4 linked regions of the Homo sapiens genome follow. The protein of the gene in region 1 interacts with the protein of each later gene in a pairwise test. Each region holds a gene or a part of one and is shown in the gene's direction. Other genes may lie near its edges. The genes, in order: LMTK2, DUSP29, PPP1CC and PPP1CB.

What was found.
Region 2: the proteins of LMTK2 (region 1) and DUSP29 interact in a two-hybrid assay, tested with the Homo sapiens proteins (one study listed by BioGRID and IntAct).
Region 3: the proteins of LMTK2 (region 1) and PPP1CC interact in binary tests that used the Homo sapiens proteins (3 or more experiments, as listed by UniProt).
Region 4: the proteins of LMTK2 (region 1) and PPP1CB interact in a two-hybrid assay, tested with the Homo sapiens proteins (one study listed by BioGRID and IntAct).

The regions. Positions count from the first base shown.
Region 1 is NC_000007.14:98,101,445-98,110,191, forward strand, and holds the start of LMTK2 (serine/threonine-protein kinase LMTK2 precursor), read left to right. Parts: upstream 1-5,417; 5' UTR 5,418-5,733; coding exon 5,734-5,836; intron 5,837-8,747. UniProt on the Homo sapiens protein: Phosphorylates PPP1C, phosphorylase b and CFTR.
Region 2 is NC_000010.11:75,036,679-75,043,167, reverse strand, and holds the end of DUSP29 (dual specificity phosphatase 29), read left to right. Parts: intron 1-5,090; coding exon 5,091-5,332; 3' UTR 5,333-5,696; downstream 5,697-6,489. UniProt on the Homo sapiens protein: Dual specificity phosphatase able to dephosphorylate phosphotyrosine, phosphoserine and phosphothreonine residues within the same substrate, with a preference for phosphotyrosine as a substrate. Involved in the modulation of intracellular signaling cascades.
Region 3 is NC_000012.12:110,725,074-110,732,891, reverse strand, and holds part of PPP1CC (serine/threonine-protein phosphatase PP1-gamma catalytic subunit), read left to right. Parts: intron 1-990; coding exon 991-1,122; intron 1,123-2,132; coding exon 2,133-2,363; intron 2,364-7,818. UniProt on the Homo sapiens protein: Protein phosphatase that associates with over 200 regulatory proteins to form highly specific holoenzymes which dephosphorylate hundreds of biological targets.
Region 4 is NC_000002.12:28,782,830-28,790,647, forward strand, and holds part of PPP1CB (serine/threonine-protein phosphatase PP1-beta catalytic subunit), read left to right. Parts: intron 1-1,077; coding exon 1,078-1,149; intron 1,150-5,828; coding exon 5,829-5,980; intron 5,981-7,818. UniProt on the Homo sapiens protein: Protein phosphatase that associates with over 200 regulatory proteins to form highly specific holoenzymes which dephosphorylate hundreds of biological targets.

The DNA.
Region 1 (8,747 bases):
CTTTTTCTGTCTTGTAACAATTTTTCGAAAACTGGACATTTAAAATTGCATAATGTGGAAACTCTGGAATAGGTTTTCCCTGATATTCCCCTTCCACAGGGTTTGCATTGTTGGTGCTGTTTGTTATTGCTGTTGCTGCCATCATTCATTTTTAAAGGGCCTTTCCTGGTCTAATTCTGTATTTTGAAAAATTTGTGAATGGCCACCAAAGTCTCTGTTTAGTTAGCTTAGTGGTCAGCTAATGACTACAGAGATATCCTTAAATTCTTTTTTTTTTTTTTTTTTTTTTTTTTTGATATAGAGTTTTGCTCTTGTCATCCAGGCTGGAGTGCAGTGGTGTGATCTCGGCTCACTGCCACCTCTGCCTCCTGGGTCCAAGTGATTCTCCTGCCTCAGCCTCCCGAGTAGCTGGGATTACAGGCGCGTGCCACCATGCCCAGCTAATTTTTGTATTTTTAGTAGAGACAGGGTTTCACTATATTGGCCAGGCTGGTCTCAAACTCCTGACCTCAGGCGATCTGCCCAACTTGGCCTACCAAAGTGCTGGGATTACAGGCGTGTGCCACTGTGCCTGGCCTCCTTAAATTATTTGAGCCAATATGTCTCCCTGGTTTTGCTAAGAGTCTCTGTATGTGTGTTGGAGCATGCATCTGATGCTCTGGCAGTTTAAAATTCTGCCCCAGTCCTTACTGTGCTTGCACAGCCTCATGATCAACTAGGAATGAGAAACGAGGGCCTTCTCATGTATTTCCTAGCCATGTTCATAGCCTTGTACATGCACATGGCTTTCTAGATTTCCAATAATATGGTGGATCTTTTCAAAGCTCCCAATGACATATTATTCCCTAGATTTTTCTTTTAAGTTTCTCATCAGCCAACTGGTATCACTGGCTCAGGCAATTGCAATGTTAAACAGTTGTCACTGATTATTTTCAACAAACAGGATAGGACTATTTTCACTGAGGCATTTCTGAGTCATATCAAATGAAGAAAAGCCCTGAAAATAGTGCCTTTCTAAGGAGCTGCCAGACAGGTCAGATAGTCACAGTTCTTTGGGGATACAGGTTTTGGGGGAGCTCCAAACCTATTCTGCCCCCTCTGGTAGCTGCTAGCCTGCTTATTTCCACAGTTCCCATGGTGGTGAAGTTGCTGGTTTTCAAGGCTATCACAGAGGTGGGGAGAGAAGAATGGAAATAGGGCAAGTAAAAATTTCATGAAGCTCATTATTCTTATGAGATTTGGCCATTTTCCTTTTCTTTATTTTAAGAGACAGGGTTTCACTATGTAGCACAGGCTGGAGTGCAGTGGTGGAATCACAGTTCACTGCAGCCTCAAATTTCTGGGCTGAAGCAATCCTCCCATCTCAGCCTGCCAAAGTGCTGGGACTACAGGCATGTGCCACTGTGCCTGGCTAATTATTTATTTTTAGTAGAGATTGGGGTCTCACTATGTTACCCAGGCTGCTCTCAAACTCCCAGGCTCAGGTGATCCTCCTACCTCAGCCTCCCAAAGTGTTCGTATTACGGGCGTGAGCCACCACACCTGGCCTCAGCCATTTTTCTTTAACAAATTGACTCATGATATTGCAAACCTCTGGCAAATTCCTAGAGTTCTGAAGAAGTTTATGTGGACAATTTTGCTAGTGCTCTTCTTGCCTTCCATTCTTCAAGTATCAGTCCATTCTTGCATTGCTATAAGGAATACCTAAGATTGGGTAATGTATAAAGAAAAGAGGTTTAATTGGCATATGGTTCTGCAAGTTGTACAGGAAGCATGATGCTAGAATCTGCTTGGCTTCTGAAAGGCTTCAGAAAACTTACTATGATGGCAGTACGCAAAGGAGGAGCGAGGCATCTCACACGGTGGGAACAGTAGAGAGAGAGAGGGAGGAGGTGCTACACACTTTTTAAACAACTAGATCTCGTCAAAGATCACTCGCCATCACAAGAACAGCACCAAGAGGATGGCGCTGAACCATTCATGAGAACCCTCTCCCATGATCCGATCACCTCCTACCAGGCCCCACCTCCAAAACTGTGGATTACATCTCCACACATGAGACCGGGTGGGAACACAAGCCCAAATCGTATCCAAATGCTTCCCTCATGACCTTTGTTTTTAAAATAATTTGTTTAATTATACATTTATATAATTTATTTATTTATTTTTGAGATGGAGTCTCACTCTGTTGCCCAGGCTGGAGTGCAATGGCATAATCTCAGCTCACTGCAACCTCTGCCTCCTGGGTTCAAGTGATTCTCCTGCCTCTGCCTCATGAGAAGCCGGGATAACAGGTGCCAGCCACCATGCCCAGGCCATCTTGGCCTGGCTGGCCTTGAACTCCTGACCTCAAGTGATCCACCTGTCTAGGCCTTCCAAAGTGCTGGGATTACAGGCGTGAGCCACTGCCTATAACTTAAATTTTAACAATGGCTGTGTTGAACAACCAATGCGCATAATTCCTGAACATGTTAACAATTGGCTTTCATGAGTTGGCACCAGCAGCTCCAGGACCCCACCAACAGGCCTCCTGGGTGCCCCATTTGATCCAGCTGAGCTCTGTGAACCTTTAGAGTATCTGCTAGGTGCCAGAGCTCCAGAAGTGCTCATCCAATACTAAGCTGACTCCACATCCTTCAGCATCCAGGCCTCAGCCAGAGCTTGCTGGCAGGACAGACACTGGCAGGAGGGTCTTCCAAGCGATAGCTTGGCATGAAGGAAAACTTGAAAGAGGCTTGGCATGAAGGAAAACTTGCAAGAATGGCTGTAAAGGGCTGGGCGTGGTGGCTCATGCCTATAATCCCAACACTTTGAGAGGCCGAAGTGGGCAGATCACTTGAGGTCAGAAGTTCAAGACCAACCTGGCCAACATGGTGAAACCCTGTCTCTCCTAAAAATACAAAAATTAGCCAGGTGTGGTGGCGGGCGCCTGTAACCCCAGCTACTCAGGAGGCAGAGGCAGGAGAATCACTTGAGCATGGGAGGCAGAAGTTGCAGTGAGCCAAGATCACACCACTGTACTCCAGCCTGGGTGACAGAGCGAGACCCTGTTTCAAAAAAGAAAAAAAAAAAAGAATGGCTGTAAAACACTGAAAGATATTGCTTCTAATCTTAGGTATTGATTTCCAAATTGTGCTAAAGGCTGTTTTCTGACTTCTGGGTGAAACTAAACAAAGCCAACAGGTTTTTGTTTGTTTAATAACATCTCTAACTGGAAGTCTTCAAGTATTGAGTAAAGGCATACACGGTGAGGTGGGTGGTGGGGCAAAGGCTGCCTTTAGACATCATCTGGGGGATGTGCACTGTAACCCCTGTTCTGTGAAAGAGGAAAAGAAGTTTGTTTATTTGTTTGTTTGTTTTAACTTTTGGGCTTGCTCAAATAATAGCAAAATCTACTTTGGGATTGTGGTCCAACGTGCTGTTGGAGTGCACTTTAGTTGTAAATAACCACTACCAGGATTATCAGGTAAGGCCTTCCTTAGGCCAGCACTACAGCAGGCAGTCACGAGCCTCCTTGCAGTACACAGTGTGGGTGTCCCTGGCTTCTCTGAACTCAAAGTGAGAAGCTTCCTGATAGAAGTAGAAGTATAGGCTAGGCGCGGTGGCTCATGCCTGTAACCCCAGCACTTTGGGAGGCCGGAGTGGGCAGATCACGAGGTCAAGAGATCGAGACCATCCTGGCCAACATGGTGAAATCCTGTCTCTACTGAAAATACAAAAATTAGCCAGGTGTGGTGGCGGGCACCTGTAGTCCCAGCTACTCAGGAGGCTGAGGCAGGAGAATCGCTTGAACCCAGGAGGCAGAGGTTGCAGTGAGCTGAGATCGCACCACTGCATTCTAGCCTGGTGACAGAGACAGACTCTGTCTCAAAGAAAAAAAAAAAAGAAGTAGAAGTACAACAGGGTGATTGTGTCTCTTTCCTAGACCTTTGCCTTCCTTACCAATTCTGCATATAATCAGCAGAAAGCCGTGAACTTTTTTTTTTTTAAGACAGAGTCTCGCTGTGTCGCCCAGGCTGGAGTGCAGCGGTGTGATCTCAGCTCACCGCAACCTCCGCCTCCTGGGTTCGAGCAATTTTCCTGCCTCAGCCTCCCAAGCAGCTGGGATTACAGGCATGCGTCACCGTGTCTGGCTAATACTTTTTGTATTTTTAGTAGAGATGGGGTATGACCATGTTGGCCAGGCTGGTCTTGAACTCCTGGTCTGAAGTGATTCACCCACCTTGGCCTCCCAAAGTGCTGAGATTACAGGTGTGAGCCACCGTGCCCAGCCAAGCCATGGACTTTTAAATTCAATGTTTCTCGTTCCAGGTATTTGTCTCCTTAGATATTTATTGGCTTGCCTCAATCATCCAACAAATATTCCCTGGGCATCATCTGTGTGTCCAGTGCTGTGTTAACATCATCGACAGCTGGCATTTAGGATGGACATTTGGGGAGTTTGGAGAATTGGGGAGGTTACACTGTTGCCAGGTGGCAAAGTCTCATCTGATAAGATTGAAATCAGCTCCTCTCATGCACACACTGAACCATAGCGCCTCTCCAGAAAAGCTTAGCATTTTCCCAACCCCCATGCCTCTGACCACTATATTACTTGTGTCTGGAGAGTGCTTTCTCTATCCTCTCTGCAGGACTGTGTTCTCACCTCACCTCTTGGTGGGGAGAAGGCCACCCCTGGGAGCTGCTCTGCCCTGGTACCTGGGACCAGGGCCATGCACCATTGCTTTAGAGAACACCTGCTCCGACCCAGGTCCTGCACCAGGGATTTCCCACCAGCTGAATCAGACACAGTTGCTGTCCTCAGGGAGCTTACAGTCACGGGTCAATAGGATACTGCAGCTAGGATAGCAGTCCACACAGGGCCAGGGCGGGGCACTAAGGAGATGACAGTCATTTCTCCTAGAGAGTCATAGATGAAGTCATATGTCAGGTGAGTCTCGACAGATGAAAGGAAGAGTGTCTGCCAGGTGGACAAGAGGCAACAGCTTGAGCTCAGGAGGTGAGTCAGTGGGTGATGCCGAGAGAGGCATTCTCTTGATCAATTCAAGTGAAAAGCCCAAAGCTGTTTGATGGCTGAGAGGATGTGTAGGTCAACTTAAGGAGAAGAGCCTAAAACAGCTCTGACAAGTAAAAAAAAAAAAAAGGCAGAAGACAAGACAGGCCTATTTTTGCATGTTATAAAACACCGAGAAAAAAATATCAGGATGATTGTCATGGTCTTCTTTACATTTTCCTGTATTTTTCAATTTAAAATAATTGTTGGTGTTACCTGCTGCCCACGCACTCCTCCGTCTGCAGGGGGCGCACCGGCCGCCACCGCTCACTCCTTCAGGATGATGGGCGGGGCCTCCTGGGCCGGTGTGGACTGACGAGTGGCTGGCCGCCCTGTCCATCACGACATCCCGCCCCCGCGCTACGTCACATGACGCAGCCCATCATGGCGGCGGGAGCGCGGCTTCCCAGGCCCGCCGCTCCGCAGGGCTGCTGGCGTTGCTGCTGTTGAGAGGCGGCGGCGGCGGCGCAGGCGGGCGGGAAGGATGGTGTTTCTGCGACTGGAGCGGCAGGTGCGGACCGGGAGCCGGACCGAGGTTTGGCAGAAGCAACGTGTGCTCGGGAGCAACCGGCGCGGGTGCCACTGAGGCAGCGGAGGGAGGCAGGATCGACTGACGGGCGAACGGACGGACGGACGGAAGGCGACTCGAGGGCCGGCCCCGGAGCCGCGCCGTGGGCGAGATGCCGGGGCCGCCGGCGTTGCGGCGGAGGCTGCTGCTGCTGCTGCTGGTCCTCCTGATCGCCGGCAGTGCTGGGGCCGCGCCACTTCCGCAAACAGGTGCAGGTGAGCGGGCCCGCGGCGGGGACGGGGCTGCGGGGTCTTCGGCGTGGAGGGGAGGGGGCGGCAGGGCCGGGCCGGCCTCGGCGCCGAGGAATCGGAGGGCCTGCCGGGGGCGGGAAGCCCAGGGAGGCGAGTGATTAGGGAGATTTCTGCCGCAGGGGCGTGGGATTTGGGGGGGCGGGAGCGAGGCGACGTCGTTGGGGCTGGGGAGGGCGGCGGGCGAGGTAGCAGCCACCGACCCCTCCCGGGATAGGCTGCGGTGCCGGCCCTGGACCTGTTGCCTTAAGATCCTCAGCTTATATCGCTTCCTGGCAGTTCAGCTTCCCTTTCCAGATGTCACCTGCCTCTTGTGCTTTTTTTTCGCATCTCATAAGAACCGTTTCTTAGCCCTAATCATACTTAAATGCAAATGACTTGGCGAGCTGTGCGGAGTTTGTTTTCGCTCCTTGCAACTTATTCTGAAGTTGTAAATTGATTTTAGACGCTGTGCTTTTTATTCGGAATGTATCTCCGGGGATGAGAAGGAAACAACTATAAATATTTCTATTTTAGGAAGCCAGTGATTAGAGTAGCAGGCGTTGAATAACTATTGACAAACTGGCTTAAGGGTGATGGAAGTTTCTATTTTAGCTAACGTCAGTGTATGATTTTCTTTTCTCCCCCCCCGCCCATTTTCTCAACATCGTTTTTATTTGGGGTTTATTTTCCTAAATAAAACTTCAACCCAAGAAAACATCCCAAGTTGGGTCATTTTTCTAAAAAGGAAAAAAAAATCTAGGCTAACTTGGCGTTATTGACTGCCGCCATTACCTTTGAAATGGGGAAAGATTGAAATTTCATACATTCATAGAATGTTAGAGTTAGAAGAGACCTTAAAGAAAATTTAGACCAATTTCTTCTTTACGTAGTAGGAGATACTGGGCATGTTGGGTCAAATGACCTACCCAGGGTGACACAGCTTCGTTGTAGGCAGAGCCCCAAAGCCAGGTCTTAGATACCCCTAGTTGTATGATTTTTTTTAAGTCTTGTAACTGTTTTGGAATACTCTCGAGGTCAAGAGTTATTTTGGAATAATGTTAATTGGGTACAGAATGTGGATGTACTGTCTCCAGTAAAGACATATTTTTCAAACAAATCTACGATGAAAGCTACATGTAATTGCTTCCAGAGCTACATCAGGGTTTGTCATTGAGTGCCCTTTAGTTGAACGTTAAATGTCCTCATTGTACCGTATAATGTAGCACTAAATTTCTGTTACTGCCTTAGATCAAATACTTGTGAGGTGAATTCTGTTTTCTGATCCGATAGATAAGAAGAGTAAATGTTATCAGATGTGTATAGGCAACCCCGGAAAGAGTCACAGGAAATGCCTGGGAAATAATGAAAGATTATGTGGAAGGATGGTGATGTTGATATTTAAAGATATTGATATTGAAAGTTAGCACTAGTATAGTGTAGTAGGTAAAGAGTATTTATATGATGGGGATTCAAGAAATTTCCAGATGACTTTACACTTAATTGGATTTTTATATATTTTGAAGTATCGATTCTTTATAGGAACCTATGTCTGCCTGCACACTTTTTTTTTTTTTTTTTTTTTGAGACGGAGTCTTGCTCTGTCACCCAGGCTGGAGTGCATCATCGGTGCGATATCAGCTGACTGCAACCCCCCCCTTCCGAGTTCAAGCAGTTCTCTGCCTCAGCCTCCTGTGTAGCTGGGACTACAGGCCCCTGCCACCATGTCCGGCTAATTTTTGTATTTTTAGTAGAGACGGGTTTCATCATCTTGGCCAGGCCGGTCTTGAACTCCTGACCTCGTGATTCACCCGCCTCAGCCTCCCAAAGTGCTGGGATTACAGGCGTGAGCCACCGCGCCTGGCCACCTGTACACTTCTTACACGGTTTTTATTCCATTCTTTTACAATTTTATGGTGTCATGAATTATAAAATGAATTTTGTTGGGGTGTTGTAGAACAAAGCAATCAGAAAAGTTAATCTGTAAATAGAGATATCAAATCTTGACATACATATAGCATAAGGAAATATTTGGTAATTTGTAGCAACTTTTGCTACAAATTTTCCTTTCATATTCTGATCTTTGTAGGATAGGTGTATATGTTTTGACGTGTTGCATATGAATAATGGGTACCTAGGGTTAAAGTCTGTGGAAAAGACGCACAGTCAGGCCGGGAGCAGTGGATCACACCTGTAATCCCAGCACTTTGGGAGGCCCAGGTGGGTGGATTGCTTGAGGTCAGGAGTTCGAGACCAGCCTGACCAACATGGTGAAATTCCCTCTCTACTAAATATACAAAAATTAGCCGTGCGTGGTGGTGGGAGCCTGTAATCCCAACTATTTGGGAGGCTGAGGCAGGAAAATTGCTTGCACCCAGGGAGCGGAGCTTACAGTGAGCCGAGATTGTGCCACTGCATCATAGCCTGGGCAACAGAGTGAGACTCCGTCTCAAAAAAAAAAAAAAAAAAAAGAAAGGAAGATGCACAATCAGACATAGATATTCAGGGGCTTGTCTCTCCATCCAAAAGAGTTTATTGATCCTCGTTAGCTGAGGTGGGTTCTTGACCAAGATATATTAGACCAAGTTTAAAAAAAAACCTTTAAGCTAATCCTGACTAGTGAGCTCGCTGGTTAAAAAAGAGGAATCCCGCTTGACCATGTATGGTAGATAAAAGAGCAGTTACACGCCAAAAACCTAACTAAAGCTTCTGGTAATCTAGGAGCCTGCACTCCTTGTGAAGATAGAGCTAGACACTTTCAAATAAGGATAGACCCATTTCATAGGGTCTTTCGCCTCCTTGTTCTTCTTTCTGCTTGAAGCCTGATCAGTCTATCCAGTTTAATGGTGCCTTAGAGAAAGCATGCAGTTAACTGAAATTCAGCTTTTAAACTGAAGAT
Region 2 (6,489 bases), on another chromosome or scaffold:
GGGCTTTACTGGCACGCTGTATTTGAGGTATAATTTGGGTTTTGCACCCCCAGCGTCCAAGTTTTCCCAGTGTTAATTATCCAGCTTTTAAATCACAGTGCTAGTCTTTGTGCTCAGAATGCACTGTTGGCTACCCTAATCCAGCAAAGGCTACAAGGCTATTTTGGAGAGAAGGGCACAGCTTAGGGACGCATCGGGGGTAAGACAATATACAGTTATTGCTGCAGGGTGTACTTCAGTGGAATTCCACAGAGGCCAGAGGGACTTCAGCTCCCTAATCTGTGCTCTGACTTCAGCCCAATGTGTCACACACCCCTTTGTGGAGCCATCACATAATTCAGGGTATCTGGTTACTGAAAGCCTTTCTTGCCACAAGAGGTTGTGATTACAAGGCTCAGTGACTGACCAAATAGTCTGCTGCAGGAACTTGCAACCTGGGGCTGGGCCTAGGCCAGGTCTGCTGGACAATATCAGACCTTAATGGACATCCCAAGGTGGCCCTGGCCCCACAGCCAACCATAGCCACCAACAATTTGTCATTATTTTGGCTCAGAAAGCAATGTCACAATGAAAAAAAACCCTTAGAGCTAACATGCCTGTATTAGAAGATGCCTCATTTCCAGGCCTTCCTTTTATGAGTCTATTTATGAACCATCTTTTGTGCTGTGTACATTCTGGGTTTCCAAGCAGGATCAAAAACACAACTGAACTGAGTCATCACCACAAGGTAAAATTTGCCTCATAGTATTTGAAGTTAACTGAAAACACATTTGACATGAAAAAAACAAAGACTGCAACAACCTAATCCTTCAGTTTCTGTTTAATGCACTCACTTGCCATTACTATATTTTAGACCTTACCCTTCATGGAAGGGGCCTGGCAGGCTTCGGAGAAGACAGGGCTGGGTTTACATTTCTGTCACACAATTTACTAACGATGTGATTTCTCTGAGCCTTGGTTTCTCCATCCGGTGATAAAAATATTTACCTTCAGAGGTTATAATGAGGATCAGCAGTAACGCGCGTAAAGCGCTTAGCATAGAACCTGGTGGACAGCAGGCTCTCGGATGTATTTGATAAAGCGTGGTCATACACTGTGAAGCATATAACCACGCCAGCATGTGCACATCATCATCGTAAAGTTTCCAATCCTCAAAGAAAAAAAAAAGACATTCCAACTTTGAACTGTAAGATATACTCACATGAAAGCTTGTTGTAGGTTCCTGGCACTCAATTTTAGGGTCTGCCCCCACTGCCAAATCCAGAAAGAATCAGGCTCTCAAGTTGAAGCTTAGGCCTAGGCAGATGACAGAACATTATGAGGAGGTGTCAGGCTGCTGTGGATCATGACTGTTAGACCAGGTGGCACCTAGCAAACAAAGGGCCAACGGAGGAGAGTAGATACTTGGATCAGAGACTATGAGTGGGATAGAATGAATGGATGGGGGTGCCGGGACTCGACCAGATGGCTAGGGATGGGGAGCAGGACATGACCCCACTGGAGATGGCAGGGTAGGCTCTGCTCTCAGCACCTTTGCACTGGCATATCTAAATAATTCAAGTCAGGGCTCAAACGCCTACCCTGCAGAACCATGCAGAGTGTAAACAAATGAAGATGGCTGCATGTACAGCGGAGGGGTGTGGGTAGGGGGCACTTGTGGCTAAGCAGAGAGCCCTGTACCCCTTCAGAGGGGCACCTGCCACCCAGCCTCAGCTAATGCTTGTCTTGTGAGAGTCAGTGCAAATGTGGGAGATCTGACTTTTCAGAAGTCTCCAATCTGGATTATAAAATCACTCGATTTTTAGGTCTTGGCAACAGATTGAAATTTCTTAAAATGCTGCAAAGGACAGACTAAAGCAACCCAATGGCCATCAGGTTGTAACCTGTGCCCTGAGTGGCCAGAGCAACCAAACAAAATGCCCGCTAGCTCAGCAGCAGCAATGCCACAGACTTCATACCCAGTGGACGGCAGGTGCTCAGCCCACCTGCCACATGCAGTTGTGTCTAGGCAAGGGACACTGCTTGGCATTTTAGTGCTGGACCTACTTGTATGTTTCTTACACTCTCTATGTAAGTGGTGTGGATAGACAGTCTGGCCAAAAAGCAAGGCATCACTCCTTGCTTCCTCTTGTCTATGTTCTTTGTTCTCATTGACTGGTTTCAGCCAAGTGTACACCATTCCCCCTACCTGGCTTCTCACAGCCGGTCATTTTCACTCTTTTTGAAAAGCGTTCCTTGTGGAGCTGTACTCGTGGGCTGTAATCAGCCCCTGGGGCCCTCTCCCATCCCATCACTACCCTGACTTGACCCTTTATAAAGAACTCCCCAGGCAACCTCAGTCACTCTTAAAATATCTCGGAGATAATCCAGTCCCTGGTCCTGCCCTGACAGCTGGGCAAACAGAGGCCCAGAGAAGACAAGTGAGGTGCCCAGGGTCACAGAGCTAATCAGAGGCAGCGCCATCAGGACACCTGCCTACCAGCGGGGATTCCTTCTGTCACCGAGGCCTCACAGAAGAGTCCTCTGCCCTTATTTTGAGCACCTGGTGACTTTGCTGTATAAGAGGTCACCGAATATCATGGAGGGCGAGTCATGCCAGCTGGTTATAGGATCTGAAAAAACTGAATTTGTCACTCTTCATCAGAAAAAGAAGTACTCACAAAATACTGTCACAGGAACCCCACTTGGGTTGCTTTAACTGCCCCCGATTCGGCATCCTCCGAGGTGAATTAGTGTGGTTTTAATTTAATGAAGTCTTCTAAGAAACTCCAGGGCAAATGCCACGAGGCGCTAAAGATCAGACTTTAGTATCACGCTCTCCTTTTGGCAGTCCATGGCCTGCTTCTGAAGGCATCTTAAAATATATTATGGATAAGGGAAGTATGAATAAATAAATGAAGCCTGCTTTCAAGCAGGAGGTTGATTCTCTGGTGCTTCTAATAAGCTTTAACCGACCAGATTTTCACTGTTTGGTTTTTGTTTTTGTTTTTTTGAGACGGAATCTCGCTCTGTCACCCAGGCTGGAGTGCAGTGGCGTGATCTCCACTCACTGCAACCTCCACCTCCCGGATTCAAGCGATTCTCCTCTTTCAGCCTCCCAGGTAGCTGGGAGGTGCCCACCACCACACCTGGTGAATTTTTGTATTTTTTAGTAGAGACAGGGTTTCACCATGTTGGCCAGTCTGGTCTCCAATTCCTGGCCTCAAGTGATCCACCCACCTCGGCTTCCCAAAGTGCTGGGATTAGAGGCATGAGCCACCACGCCCAGCCGATTTTCACTGTTGGAAGGGTCTCTTGCCCTATCTCCCTCCAGCCCCGGCAGTTCATAATACACCTTGCACCTTGTTTCTCAGAACTTCCACACACCTAGAACCTCTTGGGAAGAAGTAAGGGCTCTACCAGAATTTCTTTGCAAGTTACTAAGAAAGGCAGGTTCCCAGATAGTGCATGGGAGATGGGCAGAAAGCATCTCCTGAAAGCAAGGAAGGAGTCTGCTTAGCAAGGAGCACACCTGGCTGCGGGGCGGAGCGTGGTGCAGGGTAACAGTCTTAGCCTACGTCTGATTTTCGTGACAGAGGCCTACCTTCCAGTCACTCCTAAAAGCATGCAATTGAGGAGCAGTAGAGATTCTGGATTTGGGTTTCCTTTTCTTGAGATGCAGTCTTGCTCTGTCGCCCCGGCTGGAGTGTAGTGGCGCGATCTCAGCTCACTGCAACCTCTAACTCCTGGGTTCAAGCAATTCTCCTGCCTCCGCCTCCTGAGTAGCCGGGACTACAGGTGCACCACCACGACTGGCTAATTTTTGTGTAGAGATGGAGTTTTGCCATGTTGGCCAGGCTTTAACCACATGGGCTCCAGGTGCTCTGACTGTATGTGAGAACATAAGGACCTGCAAGCATAGGTATGCACTAGCTGCTGCTGTTCCTAAAGATGAACTGTGGTCAGGCATGCCTCAAGGGCTCTGACTGTAGTCATGAAGAAAAGTATCTCCAAGCATGAGAGGGGCGCTGATCTCTCCCACTGCAACAAGTGTGCTCTGGCCAGGGGGACCCTAGGAGCTCTGACAGAAGTTGGGAAATAAAAGCCCAACACAGGTATAGTGCTGGCCCCTGTGATGGTAAGAGATGTGCTCTGGCATGATGGGTCTCAGCTAATCTGACCACAAGAAGGAACAAAAGTGTTGCCTGGACCTTGATTCTTCTCAATAGGCCTGACTCCTCCAATAGTAACACATGTGCATTCACCCAGCTTGAACTCCCAACCTCAAGTGATCCGCCCACCTCAGCCTCCCAAAGTGCTGGGATTACAGGTGTGAGCCACCGCGCCCGGCCTCATGCCCTAGTCTTGGAAACAAAATTCAGCTCTTGGAACTCCTACCAGAGCTTAGTGTCCTCTGTCCCTCCTTTTCCCCTTTCTCTCCTGCTCCCTCCACCTCCCCCTCTCCTCCCACCCCCTCCATCTCCCTTCCAACTCTTTCTCCCCTCCCCTCTGCCACTTAACAGAATTCAGGCCCCCAAAAGGCTTAATGAACTACAGCTTTCATCTGTTTCAAGTACTGAGTCATGACAGAAAGAATTACCCTGTTTTCTGGGAGAGGAAGAAACGCTTTGGTTATCAGCAGGGCTGGCCAGAGGCCCGGCAGCCTCCAGAAAGGTCCGTGGGATTTGAATGCCAGGGGTGGACATTCATCCAGCTGGACACGTTCACACCCCAGGAGCGCGGTCATGCCAGGGAGAACCTGGGACCAGCCTCCCCCAGATCCGAAACAGCAATCAAGAAGTGGGTGCTTGCTTTCTGGCCATGGTGCTCAGGGGAAAGGCAGCCCAGCCACACTGTAGGAGCTCAGCAGCCATTCATTAGCACAAACAAATTGTGCTAAAATCGAGTTATTTACAGGGTTATTTGCCTTCTCAACAACCCTATGAAGAAGACACCGAGAGTGTCCCCGTTCTACAGAGGCAGCTGTGGGGCACAGTGCTGAGTCACTTTCTGTGGGCGAGAGGGTGACAGTCAGGATGGGAGTGGGCCCTACCTGTGCCCCCAACACCTGCCCCTCAGTGTGGGTTTTCTCCTCCCTGCTCCATCTGCAGGTAAGATCCTGGTTCACTGCGTCATGGGCCGCAGCCGGTCAGCCACCCTGGTCCTGGCCTACCTGATGATCCACAAGGACATGACCCTGGTGGACGCCATCCAGCAAGTGGCCAAGAACCGCTGCGTCCTCCCGAACCGGGGCTTTTTGAAGCAGCTCCGGGAGCTGGACAAGCAGCTGGTGCAGCAGAGGCGACGGTCCCAGCGCCAGGACGGTGAGGAGGAGGATGGCAGGGAGCTGTAGGCCCGACTCACAGGGCCAGCAGAGGCACTTGGGGACAGAGGGGAGAGGCAGAACATAGCCCTGGCCTAGGACTCCAGAGAAGGGATGGTGAAACCGAAGCTCGACTCTTCCAAACCATCTTGTTCAACTTCCCCATGTGTGCTGGGGACAGGGAGGACCCAGAGCTGCCCCCGGGCAGAGCTGAGCGCTCAGCCTCTCAGCAAAATGGGAGGGACGGGCTCCCCGGCTCTGGGTCACAGAGGAGCATGCCACGCTGCACCAAGTCTCCTGCTTTGGTTTTGTTTTTTTGGTGAGAAGGAAGAGGGAAAAGATTTTAAAATGTGTAGGCAGTATGTTGTGATTAAACGTTTGGCTTTGTCTGAAAGGAAAGTCATCTTCTTATAAAAAGTATTTTAAAATAGAAATTGCTTTTCCAACCACAGAACCGTACCAGGTGAGCAGTGTCACGGGAGTGCCTGCGTAGCTGTGGAGGCTCCTTCCCGGGCATCCTGCGTTTCTGTGGCATCCCTTGCACGCCGCTTGTCTTTTCAGCGGAACCCCTAGGCTCACGCCACCATCTCTAGATGTGCTCCTCCAGCAGGGTGGGGAGGGGTCCTGAACCTCTGTACAGAGGCCCCTGCTTTAGGCTTCCCCCACTTTCCCAAGGGACGCAGGGCTCCTCAGACTCTTAGCCAGGGCTGCCACTACTCAGAAAAATTCAATGAATTGTGGTGAGTTTGGACAAGTAGGAGTTTGACTTTCTAATTTTGGGGAAAAAAAGGGAGGAGACCCTCTCTAGCGGGGACCTCAGGGAGGCTCTTTTCACGTGGGTTCTAGTCAAAGCAACACGAGCTGCTTTTCAGTCATAGCAGAAAGTATTTGCAAATTGTTGTCTGCTGTGGAATGGGACGATGGGGCAGCCAGGTAAGCTCAGGTGTGGAGTTTGCCTCCCTGAGAGCTAAGCCAGGCACGATGGCTGCGTGATTTCCACTCTGAAGGAGAAAACGGCAGCAGACATGAAGCGGGTAGTGACAGCTTCCAGGGCCAGGAATCCCAAACCAGACAGAAACCAAAGAGAGTTGCTGCTGTTGGAGATGCCGGCCGTCAAGGACCAGGCATGGAAATGGCCTGGAGAAACCAGAATGTGATAAAGGCCTTCTAGGAAAAAACGAAAAGGG
Region 3 (7,818 bases), on another chromosome or scaffold:
ATCTGTATCTAATGACTATCCAGTCTGTTACAACTGGAACCAAAACAAAATTTCTTTCCCACAACTACCTACGTGCTGACAAGTGAGTTCTGTTGCAAAGTTTGTACTTTGATAGAAGAACCCTAAGTGCTCTGGTGGTGTGGATGCCCCATGCTGTGCAATGATTTCTTTCTCCCATTATTATCTTATCTGTTCAAATTATTAGGGAACGTGCTTTCTTACAGTATAGCACATGACTGACATCCTTTGCCCTATATAGACATGAGCATAAACACAAATGCAGGCCCAGAAAATGCATGGCAAAATAAGTACAATGAACCAACATTTTCTTAATGAAATGAAAACAACACTAACATTTTTTCATAGGTAAATTAAATCAGAGATCCTCAGGAGGAGATACCCATGGTCCTCTGGAAAACACTGATGGGGGAGGGTTCTGAGTATTTCCAATCCTGTTTCTTTTCTTTTCTTTTCTTTCCTTTTCTTTTTTTTTTTTGAGACGGAGTCTCGCTGTGTTGCCAGGCTGGAGTGCAGTGGCGCGATCTTGGCTCACTGCAACCTCCGCCTCCCGGGTGCAGGCGATTCTCCTGAGTAGCTGGGATTACAGGTGCACGCCATGTTGGCGAGGATGGTCTGGATCTCTTGACCTCATCATGATCTGCCCGCCTCACCCTCCCAAAGTGCTGGGATTACAAGCGTGAGCCATTGCATCTGGCCTGCAGTCCTGTTTCTAACAGCATTCGCACAGACAGGATGGCTCCTTTTTTGGAATACTATAAAAGAAGTCTTACTTGGTATCGAAGATGCAATTAAGTCTTGTCTAAGATTTTAAGATTCTAATTAGACATTAAAACCATGTTTATTATAAGTGTCCTGAAAATGAAGCCACTCAGAAAGCTAGTTAAACCATGTTTTTGCCCCTTTATCTAAATCTCGTATTGTATTTTGTATTTTGGCTTCATTGGACTAATTGCGATTTTTCTCTTGCAGTGAGAGGGTCCAAGCCTGGTAAGAATGTCCAGCTTCAGGAGAATGAAATCAGAGGACTGTGCTTAAAGTCTCGTGAAATCTTTCTCAGTCAGCCTATCCTACTAGAACTTGAAGCACCACTCAAAATATGTGGTAAGTTTGGGGCACACAGGTTATCTTTTGTTACATGATTGATTAACTGAGTCAAGGATATGTTGATGACCTTGTATTAGCTAGCAGAATGATTATCCTGTTTGCGAATAGCTTGGAACTACTTAAAAGTAAGTTAAATAGTAGCTTTAGAATAAATACCTCTAATGGACTTAGTTTACTTAGATGTACTTCAGATTTTTAAAAAAAATATTTTGCTGAAGGAATAAACATTGCAAAAGAAAAAAATGAAACTAAGAATGGAGAGCTGAGGAAAGGTCTGAACTACATGGATGTATAGGAATATGTTTAAGTTTAAAGCAACACTGGTTATAGCTAAAAATAGAACTTCCTTGATACTGATTTTGTGGTTCTGTTTTCTGCATAATAGAAGCAAATAATCTGTGTTTTAACTCAATGTAAAACCAAACTTTATTCGTTTGAGTAATATATTCTTATAGCATATTTGCATTGATAAAACTTTGTGTTCATGTTTTTAAAAGTAAAATGTTCTTTGGCATTATCTAGCAGGGAGAAATTGAAAGCTAAATGCATTGATGGGTGGGGGGTGGGGGTGGTGTGTATGTGTGTATGTGCTTTTGTTCAGATGGGGCCAAGACTCACTAGAAGTGCAGCAGTTCTGCTGACACAGTACCCAGAGACTGAGCTGTCAGAGATCTGATATTGATCAGTCAGCCTGAAAGGGATACCATGTTACTTGGCAAGAATGCATGCTTGGACATAATAACCCTTTCCACAGAATAAATTCTTAATAGTTGAATTTTATGTGAGGTTCTGGACATACACATATACTTAAAATTTTTGTTAAGCTCAGTTGAACTAAATATGATATAAGATTGGAAATTACTTAGTGTTGGCTGCCCAGTTAAACTCTCATTACTAGAGGTCAATGCCATTGTACAATGAATATTTAAAGAATGTCTTTCCAAAGCTTTGTTAGTGGATTGAGCTTTAAGTATGGGAACACTGTGTAACAAAATTCTTGCTTCCAGGTGACATCCATGGACAATACTATGATTTGCTGCGACTTTTTGAGTACGGTGGTTTCCCACCAGAAAGCAACTACCTGTTTCTTGGGGACTATGTGGACAGGGGAAAGCAGTCATTGGAGACGATCTGCCTCTTACTGGCCTACAAAATAAAATATCCTGAGAATTTTTTTCTTCTCAGAGGGAACCATGAATGTGCCAGCATCAACAGAATTTATGGATTTTATGATGAATGTAAGTACTTTTCTATATCTAAGGAAGAGTTATTGAAATTAAGATATTTATCATAAACAATTATCACATACTTCTGTTAGGAATTGTGAGAGTTTAGATGCAGTGGTATCATCTCTCATGTTTTCTATTTCATCAACTTGTTTTTAGCTTAGCTTTTTTAGGGGGGTGGGGGAACGGAGTCTCACTCTGTTGCCCAGGCTGGAGTGCAGTAGCACCATCTTACCTCATTGCAACCTCTGCCTCCCAGGCTCAAGCAATCCTCCTGCCTCAGCCTCCCAGGTAGCTAGGACTGCAGACATGCATCACCACGCTTGGCTAATTTGTGTATTTTTTTGAAGAGATGGGGTTTCACCTTGTTGCCCAAGCTGATCTGAAACTCCTGGCTCAAGGAATCTGCCCGCCTAGGCCACTCAAAGTACTGGGATTACTGGCGTGAGCCATGATGCCCAGCCAGTTTTTTCTCTCTTGGGTAGAAAAATAACACTGCCGCTGTAATAAAATAAGGTCTTGGATTCTTTTATGATGTGATGATCAGATTAGGAAGTAATGATCATGGTAATGGTTGCTTTAAGATTTAAATTGTTGTATTCACAGATAACTTAATTCTTAGTAGAAATCTGAGAACCATTCCAAATAGTTTTTTTAAGCAACTTTATTATGTAATTTCATTCCATAAAATTATTCTGTTAAAAGTGTACAATTCAGCGATTTGTAGTAAATTTATAGAGTTATGCGACCATCACCATAGTCCCCAGGCAACCACTAATCTACTTTTTGTCTTTTCTAGAGAATATTGCATGCAAATGGAATCTTGCAATACGTAAATAATTAGTTTTTGAAATTATTATAGTTTTTCTCCTTCTGGCATATCCACACCCAGGAAGAATGGCAATAACTTTCCTAAAACTAAAATGTGCTGAACAAAGATTATTTTTACAGTATTTTACACATTTTGTGACCCATTTTGGATTGTTTAATTAAAGGTATACTTCGATTTGACTATTGACAAAACACAGTTCTTAAAGCTTTGAAAATAGGCTGGGCACAGTGGCTCACGCCTGTAATCCCAGCACTTTGGGAGGCCACAGCGGGTGGATCACAAGGTCAAGAGATCAAGACCGTCCTGGCCAACATGAGGAAACCTCATCTCTACTAAAAATACAAAAATTAGCCAGGCGTGGTGGCAGATGCCTGTAGTCCCAGCTACTCAGGAGGCTCAGGCAGGAGAATCACTTGAACCCAGGAGTCGGAGGTTGCAGTGAGCCAAAATCACACCACAGTAGTCCAGCCTGGGTGGCAGAGTGAGACTCCGTCTCAAAAAAAAAAAAAAAAAAAAGCTTTGAAAATATCAGTTCAGTAAAGGGTTTCAAGTCAGAAAAGGTTTTGAATCTTTACCTTCACCTTCCTTTTGTGCTCATCATTGCTGCCAGGACGGGTTTCAGGTTTGGAGTGAAGAGGTGGTTAAGGAACTTCAGGTACTTGGCATTTGCTAATATGATTATAGGGATATCAGCAAAGGGTTGTCCCTGTGGCCCTCCCCTAGACCACATCGTAACCTAGAGTCTCCAGATGCAGTGTTTTTCCATCTCAATTCACATAGATATGTTGAGCTAGCACATTTGTTAGAAGTGCATCCTAGAAAGATTATATTCACAAACTGAGCCCTTCTACTACCACCCTTTCCCACAACTGGATGTTTGCTTGGTCTGTGACCTTGAGATCCAGCTGATAAGATGGGGTGGCAGGAATCATCAGGGACAAAAATTCTATGGGTTCTGGACTGACTGATAGCATTGAACTTGTACATGAAAGGTATTCAATATTAACAGTGATTCTGTGTCAGAGAAGTACCAGTAAGCCAGTTACTACTCCTTAGGTAGTGAAATGCAAGGCAGGTGTGATGGGTTTTTTTTGTTTGTTTTTGAGACAGAGCCTTAGGCTGGAGTGCAGAGGTGGGATCATAGCTTACTACCACCTGTAATTTCTGGGTTTAAGCAATCCTTTCACCTCAGCCTCCCTAAGTGCTGGGATTACAGTCATGAGCCACCACACCCAGCCAACACTGTGTTTTGGATACTTATTCCAAGTGTTACTCTTGAGTTTTTTGTTTTTTGTTTTTTTTTTTTTTTTTGAGACGGAGTCTCGCTCTGTCGCCCAGGCTGGAGTGCAGGGCGCGATCTCGCCTCACTGCAAGCTCCGCCTCCTGGGTTCACGCCATTCTCCTGCCTCAGCCTCCCGAGTAGCTGGGACTACAGGCGCCCGCCACTACGCCCGGCTAATTTTTTGTATTTTTAGTAGAGGCGGGGTTTCACTGTGTTAGCCAGGATGGTCTCGATCTCCTGACCTCATGATCCGCCCGCCTCTGCTTCCCAAAGTGCTGGGATTACAGGCGTGAGCCACCGTGCCTGGCCTGCTCTTGAGTTAAAGGATTCCTTTTACATAGCTGTTAGCCCAGCAAATACTTTTCATGTTTGCACTGATGAATTCAAATCCAGTTGACCTCATTTTTGTGACGTGTATCCTAATGTAATGATACTGGCTGCATCAGTTTCGGTTTCTACTTAATGCAGAGGCCTTTAAAAAATGACTTAGAAGATCAGTGTTGGTTGGTATCAGTTTCGACTCCTGTTTGGTCATCAACACAATTTGTAGATCTTATGCTCAAGCTTCCTCTCTCTCATCAGGCAGATATAATTTGCCATCCAGTCTACTTGTGGGCATGAAAGTGCCCTTGACATAGGTGGCTTTTGGTTGAAGGCTTGCAGACATTTAATATATATATAAAATACTTAACTAATTTTATTAAAATGAAAAGTTGTATTCAAATGTTGATTTTCATGGGACAATTTAAAAACCACTGCCTGTTTTCCAGGTACATAAGTACTTTATACTACCATTTCTTTTTTTTTTTTTTTTAACTTTGTAAATGTGATGGAAAGGCTGAGGTATATGTTGTTGGGTAAAACATGAGTGTTTGTTGATCTGTTTCTGCTGCCGTAGCTGTCTGATGTACAGTAATGCGAAACCGCATTACAGGTTATGGCTCAGAATCTTAGGATTTGGAAGCTAGGCGATTACCCTGGCTAAACCTTTCAGGAGCCAGATGTTCCTAGTGGTCTGAGGTAGCCTTAGGGAGGAAATGAAGAGAGAATAGAAAGAGGCAGGCCCACGCTTAAAGTGCTGAGAGGGAAAAGGAGGAAACAAACTGATTTTTGATGGAGAAGCCAGCAGGAATCAGCAGGAGAAGCTGGAGTATGTGGCATAACTAAAGAATCAAAGCCGGGGCGTGGTAGCTCACGCCTGTAATCCCAGCACTTTGGGAGGCCAAGGTGGGTGGATCACTTGAGGTCAGGAGTTCAACCTGATCACAAGAGGTCAGGAGGTCTGACCAACATGGGGAAAACCCATCTCTATTAAAAATACAAAAATTAGCTGTGGTGGTGCACACCTGTAGTCGCGGACACTCAGGAGATTGAGGCAGGAAAATCACTGGAACCTGGGAGACCATGGTTGCAGTGAGCCAAGATTGCGTCGCTTCATTCCCCCTAGGTGATGCAGTGAGACCCCACCTCAAAAAAAGTATCCAGAAGTGAAGCTGACCTTGGGGAAAGAGGAAGTCACTGTCACTGGGGAGCTAAGACAGCAGCTCTGTTTTTATAATACAGGTTAAGTATTCCTTACCGGGAATGCTTGGCACTAGAAGTGTTGCAGGTTTTTTGTTTTTGTTTTTAATTTTGGAATATTTGTGTTATAATTACTGGTTAAACATCCCTAATCCAAAAATCTGAAATCCAGAATGCTCCAGTGAGCATTTCCTTTGAGCATCATGTGAGTGCTCAAAAAGTTCCAAATTTTGGAGCATCTTGGATTAAGGATACTCATCCTGTGGTGGTAGTAGTAGTAGTATTGCTGTTGGAAATGGGAGTTGGTGGTTTTTGGAGATTGCCCTTCAGCCTTTCGTAAGAAGGAGTTTGCTTTTTTTTGAGACGGAGTTTCACTCTTGTTGCCCATGCTGGAGTGCAATGGTGCGATCTTGGCTTACTGCAACCTCTGCCTCCCAGGTTCAAGCAATTTTCCTTCCTCAGCCTGGCGGGAGAAGTTTGTTAAACTTTCCGAACCCCCTAGTGAAGGACCTCTAAAGAAATATGCAACAGGGTGAACCATAGTCAGTGTTAGACCCAGTCATTGAGAAACCAGAAATTATTAGGAGAAAAGATAACACTCCTCTGCAGAGAGAAGGCAAACATTTGTTGAATTTACATTTCATTTCAAGCCCTGTGGTAAACTCCCTAAGCTGCTTGATTTGCATTACAGGGTGGGAGGTGTGGTTCAGGTCAGTTGCTTGGGCTGGCTCTAACTCTCAAAGGAGAGGTATAGGTTTAAACCTTTAGATGTCCCTGTATTCCCCAGGAAAAGAGACTAAGGACAAACTCTTGGTTTGTTTTGTTTGTTTTGTTTTGTTTTTTGAGACGGAGTTTCGCTCTTGTTGCCCAAGCCGGAGTGCAATGGCACAATCAAGGCTCACCGCAACCTCCGCCTCCCAGGTTCAAGTGACTCTTCTGCCTTAGCCTCCCAAGTAGCTGGGATTACAGGCATGCGCCACCACGCCCAGCTAATTTTTATATTTTTAGTAGAGACGGGATTTCTTCATGTTGGTCAGGCTGGTCTCAAACTCCCAACCTCAGATGGTCTGCCCGCCTCGGCCTCCCAAAGTGCTGGGATTACAGGTGTGAGCCACCGCGCCTGGCCAAACTCCTGGTTTTTAAAGATTGTGCTTAGTATAGTAAGTACAGGAAACAAAGGCATCTGGACAATTGGACAATCCTCAACCAATCCAGAGAAATTTGTTCTTGCAAGGTATGTGACTAGGTTTTAAACTCAGAACATCAGTTTCCTGTAGAAACAGTGCATAGAGGCATATTTCTGTCAGAACTGCACTCTGACTCCAGAATGTGTGGATGCCTGTGCTGTTGAGGGAACATGACCATCCTGTGACATCAGGCCTGTGGGAGCATGTGGAGTCTGTGCAGTGTTGGAAACAAATGCCCTGTAGTGCCTGTGAGAGGCAGCCACTGCCGTGTGATCATTGTGCCTCCTGCTAGAGTACTGAGGGCTGGGGATCCTCTGGTGTCAGTAGGTTATTGAGGGGCATATATGGGGGATGGGTGCTAACTCTCAGGTTTCCTCAGAAGGAAGGTCATAACGCCACATGTGTAAGTTCGTAATTGAATTCAGAAGTAGGGGACTAGCTGCGGTGAGATTGGACAGAGCAGACAATTTCAAACAGAATTGATGCTCCCAGATAATTCCTGGGATTTGATGGCAGTCCTTAATCATTATCAAATCTGGAATTCTGGTTTCATGCTTCTGTGGAATTTAAAAAGATTTCATGTGAAAATGTAAGTCATTGCTTTTAGATCAGATATGTGTCTCTCCTAAACCCCTTCCCTCTAGG
Region 4 (7,818 bases), on another chromosome or scaffold:
GCTGAAAAGATAGATGCACTTGCCTAGGCCCGAGGTAATAAATGGTTTATTCTCTGGCAGAACATAATTCACTATATTAATTGAAATATGTTTTCCAGTAGACATTAAACACGTAATGAATTGTAGTTCTTGTACATTAGTGTAGCTAAGGATAGAAGTGTAGCAGTATGGATACGAATGTTTAGCTTCATTCCTTGTGATGATACTTGGATTGCCTATCAGAGAGAAATAATAGCTTATATACCACTTCAAAGATTGCAGAGTATTTTTATGAGCTTTTCCTGTTAATCCTTCTGATCAATAGTTTATGACTTCATGAAGATAATGAACATGTTGGAGTGGGATGTGAAAAGAAGGTCTTAGGGAACCAAGTGAGGCACTTTCACTTAGAAGTTAAAATGTTTAAGATTAGTGGTAAGAACTGGCAAAAGTGGTAGGAAGGGTTGCAGTTGATTATGTTTCTATGAAGGCCAGGGAATGATTGGAAAAAAGAATGGTAGTTTTTTTTTTCCTTGGGAAGTCTTTTGAAATATAAAGGAATTTCATTTCCCTGGTAGGGAAAAATGGAAAAAAACAATTATAATGCTGTATTATATCAAAGTGGAATTCCTAATAACTCTGTGTTGCCCTTTAAGACATTAAAAGGGGCAGGGCGCGGTGGCCCACGCCTGTAATCTCAGCACTTTGGGAGGCCAAGGTGGTTGGATCATGAGGTCAAGAGATCGAGACCAGCCTGGCCAACATGGTGAAACCCCGTCTCTACTAAAAATACAAAAAATTAGCTGGATGTGGTGGCGCGCGTCTGTAGTCCCAGCTACTCGGGAGACTGAGGCAGGAGAATCGCTCGAACCCGGGAGGTGGAGGTTGCAGTGAGCTGAGATCACGCTACTGCACTGCAGCCTGGGTGACAGAGTAAGATTCTGTCTCGAAAAAAAAAAAAGACGTTAAAAGGAACACTTTTCAGTATCTTTAATTTCACATAGTGAATCTATTTTGATTAAATGCTTTTTATTCGGTGACTGTTAAAATATTAAAATTTTTAGCTGTTAGTACTATGTCTCATCTTTTTATTTATAGGATTGTCACCAGACCTGCAATCTATGGAGCAGATTCGGAGAATTATGAGACCTACTGATGTCCCTGATACAGGTAAGTGTAGAGAGAAGTTTAATTGTTTTGTGTAAAGTGTTTTCATATTTGAACTTGATTACATTTAGTGGAAGTAGGATTGGCTTATGTAATAAATAAAAGAGCTTTTTTCATAGTCAATAAGCCAGCTACAGATTACTTTATTTGCAGTAATACACAATTTTTCACTTTGCACTGATCCTCAAAATGCGGAACCTTTTTATTTATAGTCATAATGTAGTTATTTGATCACAAAAAAGATTTTGCTGTTGAGTCCTTATACCTATTTTTCTAAATTCCCTCATTCATACTAGCATTGGTTATGTTCTTCAAAAATTTGTTAAATTAGACAAAAGTTTTTTAATTAAAATAATCTATTCTTTGCTTCTTAGGCAAGGATACAACTACCTTCTTTTCAAATGTCTAGTAGTTTTTTGTTATTTTCTATGTCCTCTATTTGAAATTTTTAGAGCTTTTTTTCAAGGGGGTGTGGGAGGGATTTCAATCTGTTGCCCAGGCTGGCCTTGAATTCCTAGGCTCAAGCAATCCTCCTGCCTCTTCTGAGTAGCTAGGGGACTCCAGGCATGTGCCATACCTGGCTTAAATTTTTAGAGCTCTTAAGGCTCTAGAGACCTGTGGTCAGTTTTGTGAAAATTACATTGGAAATCTCTGGGAAGGCTGGGAGCAGTGGCACTCACGCCTGTAGTCCCAGCGCTTTGGGAGGCTGAGGTGGGCAGGATCACTTGAGGTCGGGAGTTCCAGACCAGCCTGGCCAACGTGATGAAACCCCATCTCTACTAAAAATAACAAAAATTAGCTGGGCATGGTGGTGCGTTCCTGTAATCCTAGCTACTCAAGAGGCTGAGGCACGAGAATTGCTTGAACCTGGGAGACAGAGGTTGCAGTGAGCCGAGATCACACCACTGCACTCCAGCCTGGGTGACAGAGTGAAACTGTCTCAAAAAAAAAAAAAAAAAGAAAAAAGAAACAACAATCACCACAAAAAATGCTGCTCAGAACTACACATCAACCATTATAAATGGTATAGATCCTCTGATGTCAGTAGCCATGTAATACACTGTATGTTGTAATAAATTGTGTTAGGAGCTTTTTTTTTTTTTTTTTTTTTTTTTTTTGAGACAGAGTCTTGCCCTGTCACCAGGCTGGGGGGCAGTGGTGCAACCTCGGCTCACTGCAAGCTCTGCATCCCGGGTTCAAGTGATTCTTCTGCCTCAGCCTCCCGAGTAGCTGGGACTACAGGCGCCCGCCACCACACCCGGCCAATTTTTTGTATTTTTAGTAGAGATGGGGTTTCACCATGTTGGCCAGGATGGTCTCGATCTCTTGATCTTGTGATCCACCCACCTTGGCCTCCCAAAGTGCTGGGATTACAGGCGTGAGCCACCACACCTGGCCTGTGTTATGAGCTTTTTTACATAACACGACTTGTTGTGTTGATTATTTTTTAAAGTATGCATTTTATCACAGTTTTTGATTGTAATTATAGAATACATTTGACTAAACCTAACAAACTGGTATTTAAATAGTATTTTATTTAAAATGCTGTTTTTAGGCCTGGTGCACTAGTTCATGCTTGTAATTCCAACAGTTTGGGAGGCCAAGGCAGGAAGATCACTTGAGGTGAGGAGTCGAGACCAGCCTGGGCAACATAACACCCATCTCTACAGAGAAAAAAAAAATTTTTTTTTTTAATTAGCCACATGTCGCAGCACCGCGGCTACTCAGGAGGCTGAGGCAGGAGGATCACTTCAGCCTGGGAAGTTGAGGCTGCGGTGACCTGTGATTGTGCTCCTGCATTCTAGCCTGGGTGACACAGTGAGACCCTCTCTTTCAAAAAACACCCAAAGTGCTATTTTTAAAATAAGGTATAATATAAATATGTATTACTGGTCATTCTTCAGAATATCTGTTTATAGTTCAGATGTAAACTGATCTAGTGTGATATGCTAGGCTTCTGTTTTTAGCATGTTTTATTTATTTTAGCGTATTTTAATGAGAAGTTTTCAAGATGCTGAAAACAGTTATTTTGATCTTTGATAGTGTCTGCAACATTCAGAAATTTAATTTATAAGTTAATACATTATTTGAAGCAGCCTAGTTGATTGTGATGCTAGCTCATTAAACAATAAATCTTGACTCTGAAATTCTTTTTGAGACAGAATTTCACTCTTGTCGCCCAGGCTGGAGTGCAATGGCCTGATCTCGGCTCACTGCAACCTCCACCTCCCAGGTTCAAGCAGTTCTCTTGCTTCAGCCTCCCAAGTAGCTAGAATAACAGGTTCCTGCCACTGTGCCCAGCTAATTTTTGTATGTTTAATAGAGACAGGGTTTCACCATGTTGGCCAGGCTGGTCTTGAACTCCTGACCTCTGGTGATCCGCCCACCTCGGCCTCCCAAAGTGCTGGGATTACAGGCGTGAGCCACCATACCTGGCCTGAAATTCTTATCTAGACCCTGTTAAGGTTAAAGAATTCCAGATTGTTGTTGCTACCATTATTTGATTTTTTTAATGCATCCAGAGTGTCATGTTTCCTAAACCTCAAACTCTATTCTAATTTTATACAGTTTTATTGTCTCACTGAAATTATAGATTCTTGAGATCGAGACCATCCTGGCTAACACGGTGAAACCCCATCTCTACTAAAAATTCGCTGGGTGTGGCAGTGGGCGCCTGTAGTCCCAGCTACTCGGGAGGCTGAGGCAGGAGAATGGCATGAACCCGGGAGGTGGAGCTTGCAGTGAGCCGAGATCGTGCCACTGCACTCCAGCCTGGGTAACAGAGCGAGACTCCGTCTCAAAAAAAAAAAAAAAAAAAAAGAAATTATAGATTCTTAATACCTTAGCTTTCTACTGGAAAGAGGCTGGAAAGTATGAAAGCATTATTAAGCACTGGGTGGGTGTATATTTTCGAAGAGTCAGCTTCAACCAGAAAGGGCTTAAGAATTGAGACTGACTATTCCAGTGGATTTTGTGTGCTAGTGAATTTCTTAAAACAACATACAGGGAGCTTGGGATATATCAATGATAGAGATTGAATACATTGCCACTAATTCTACAAATGGTTTTATAATGCCTCTATCAAGATATGATGTACTGTAACTGAAAATGAAGATGCCCTTTCCTCCTAAACCATACTATGATGTTTATGGATTATTTAAAATTCTTAAAACTGACTTAACTCTTTAAAAATTATCTTCTTGGCTGGGCGCGGTGGCTCACACTTGTAATCCCAGCACTCTGGGAGGCCGAAGCGGGCGGATCACGAGGTTAGGAGATCGAGACCATCCTGGCTAACACAGTGAAACCCCATCTCTACTAAAAATACAAAAAATTAGCCGGGCGTGGTAGCGGGCACCTGTAGTCCCAGCTACTCGGGAGGCTGAGGCAGGAGAATGGCGTGAACCCGGGAGGCAGAGTTTGCAGTGAGCAGAGATTGCACCACTGCATCCCAGCCTGGGCAACAGAGCGAGACTCCGTCTCAAAAAAATATATATGTATCTTCTCTTAGCCACTGCAATTCTTAGAAAATCACCATCACCATCTCAACATCCACCCTTCTTTTAATATCACTACAGTTGGACTTTTACCCACTCCGTTACCCTCAATCACCAAGAAACTTGCATTGAGGTCTGATGATTTAATTGTAAGTGGCACATTTTTGGTCTTCGTCCTACTGCCCTTGTTCATGGCACATTTCCTACTTTAGGACGATTGTTTCCCCTTTCGGGATACGTTTACTATACTAAGCCCTTTGTCTTGATCATTCCTTCTCAATACCTAATGTTCATTCTCCCTCATCTACCTGCCTATTAAATGTTTGAATTCCTCAGAATTCATTTGCTGGTCTTCTCACTTTGTATTCCTAAGGTGGTCTGAGTCCCTCTTAAGATTTCCACTACCATTAATATGATGACAATACTCAAGTAAATATTTTTAACCCTGACCTCTTTTCCAGGGCTCCAAACATTACCAAAGTCAAGGATCTGATCTGATTTTGTTCTTCCACATTTAAAAAAAAATCCTCAGGGTCTCAGTAGAAAATGTTTTTTTTTCGCTCAAGTGATCTGTAGATCAAATACAATTCCAGTGAAATCACAATTGAGTTTTTTATGGAATTAGGCAATTGTTTTTAATGTTTATGTGGAAGAACAAAAGATCAAAAAGTAACCAAGACAATCCTGAAAAAAAAATGGAGGATACTAGCCCTACCAAATATAAAGACTTATTAAAAAGCTCTAGTCTGTTATTGGCTCAGGGATAAGTAAAATAGACTAACAGAATAGACTGTGGTGCTCAGAAACAGTGGAACCGTAAGGAAAGGATGAACTGTTGAGGAAATACCACTGGGTTGTTTGGTTATTCATATGGAGAAACTACCCAAAAGATGAACAGCCTTTTCCATGTATTGTTGTGCTGTAAGTGCCATGCACATATTTCCTATATGTGGAAAGGGTTGGAAAGTACTACCTTAAGAGGCCATGGAAGATTATATTTGTATGGTTTGTATGGTTGCTTTAACAAAAGTATAAGTTACATAGGCTGGAATACTTAGGCAAGTGATGGTCATTGTTTAGTAAAAGGTAAGAGGGCAAGAAAGGAACTGAAATTTGATGTAGATGTGCTATATTCTATAAATCTGTAAATTTTGTTCTTAATTGCTGTATTTCTGTCCTTTAAAGGTTTGCTCTGTGATTTGCTATGGTCTGATCCAGATAAGGATGTGCAAGGCTGGGGAGAAAATGATCGTGGTGTTTCCTTTACTTTTGGAGCTGATGTAGTCAGTAAATTTCTGAATCGTCATGATTTAGATTTGATTTGTCGAGCTCATCAGGTATGAAATATAAAACTCTTAAGCTTTTTCTTTTTTCTTTCTTTTTTTTGGGGGCAGACGGAGGGGCAGACAGATTCTTGTTCTGTCACCCAGGCTGGAGTGCAATGGCGCAATCTCTGCTCACTGCAACCTGTGCCTCCCGGGTTCAGGCAGTTCTTGTGCCTCAGCCTCCCAAGTAGCTGGGACGATAGCCGTGTGCCACCACACCTGGACTCTTAAACATTTATTATTTGTTAACTTCACATAAGCCCTCTCATTTTGTTTTGAGGAAACATATCCAAGAAAGCTAAATGAGTTGTACAAGGAAAGCAGTAGGAGAGGTGGCAGAGCCAGTTCCTGGATCTCACACTTAACAATCTAGTGATTTGTTAACCTTTTATCACCCTAAAAGAGGAAATGTTTAGAAATATTTTGGGGCTGGGCATGGTGGCTCACATCTATAATCCCAGCACTTTGGCAAGCTGAGATGGGTGGATTGCTTAAGTACAGGAGTTTGAGACCAGCCTGGGCAACAAAATGAGATTCCATCTCTACAAAAAAAATCAAAAATTTAGCTGGGTGTGGTGGTGCGTGCCTGTGGTCCCAGCTACGTGGGAGGCTGAGGTGGGAGGATCGCTTGAGCCTAGGAGATCAAGGCTGCAGTGAGCCATGTTTATGTCACTGCTCTCCAGCCCTTGTGAAAGAGCTAGACCCAGTCTCAAAAAAAAGAATGTATTTTTGTAGTATACAGCAAACCTAACAAAATTTTCAGTGCTTCTTTGAAGCTTTGTAGATATGATTTAGATTTTTTTTTTTTTTTTTTTTTTTGAGATGGAGTCTCACTCTGTCACCCAGGCTGGAGTGCAGTGGCACAATCTCTGCTCACTGTAACCTCCGCCTCCCAGGCTCAAGCGATTCTTCTGCCTCAGCCTCCGGAGCAGCTGGGATTACAGGCACGCACCACCACGCCTGGCTCATTTTTGTATTTTTAGTAGAGACAGGGTTTCACCATGTTGGCCAGGCTGCCCTTGAACTCCTGAGCTCAAGTGATCTGCGCCTCAGCCTCCCAAAGTGCTGAGATGACAGGCGTGAGCGTGAACCACTGTGCCCAGCCTCATTTTTATATAATCTTTGTGCATAATGGCGATTTTGATAAGAGCAAACCACACTTTAAAAAAGTATTTTTGAGACCATTGAAGAATTTGATTGTGGCTCAGTGCAGTGGCTCATGTCTGTAATTCCAGCACTTTGGGAGGCTGAGGCAGGCAGATCCTTTGAGCCCCAGGAGCTGGAGACCAGGCTGGGCAACATGACAAAACTCTGTCTCCACAGAAGATACAAAACAGCCAGATGTGGTGGTGTGCACCTGTAGTCCCAGCTTGCTTGGGAGGCTGTGGCAGGAAAGTCGCTTGAGCTCAGGAGGCAGAGGTTGCAGTGAGTGTAGATCGTACCATTTCACTCCTGCCTGTGCAATGGGTGTGAAACTCAGTCTCAAAAAAAGAGAACATTTGATTGTAGACTTGGTAATAGGTATGAATTATTTAATCTTTTAATTTTTTGTTTTTGTTTGAGGCCGAGTCTCACTCTGTCACCTAGGCTGGAGTGCAGTGGCATGATCTCGGCTCACTGCAACTTCCGCCTCCCAGGTTCAAGTGATTCTCCTGCCTCAGCCTCCCGAGTAGCTGGGACTACAGGCGCCTGCCACCACGCCTGGCTAATTTTTGTATTTTTAGTAGAGACGGGGTTTCACTATACTGGCCAGGCTGATCTCAAACTCCTGACCCCAGGTGATCTGCCCACCTCAGCCTCCCAAAGTGCTGGGATTACAGGTGTGAGCCACTGCTCCTGGCCGGTATCAA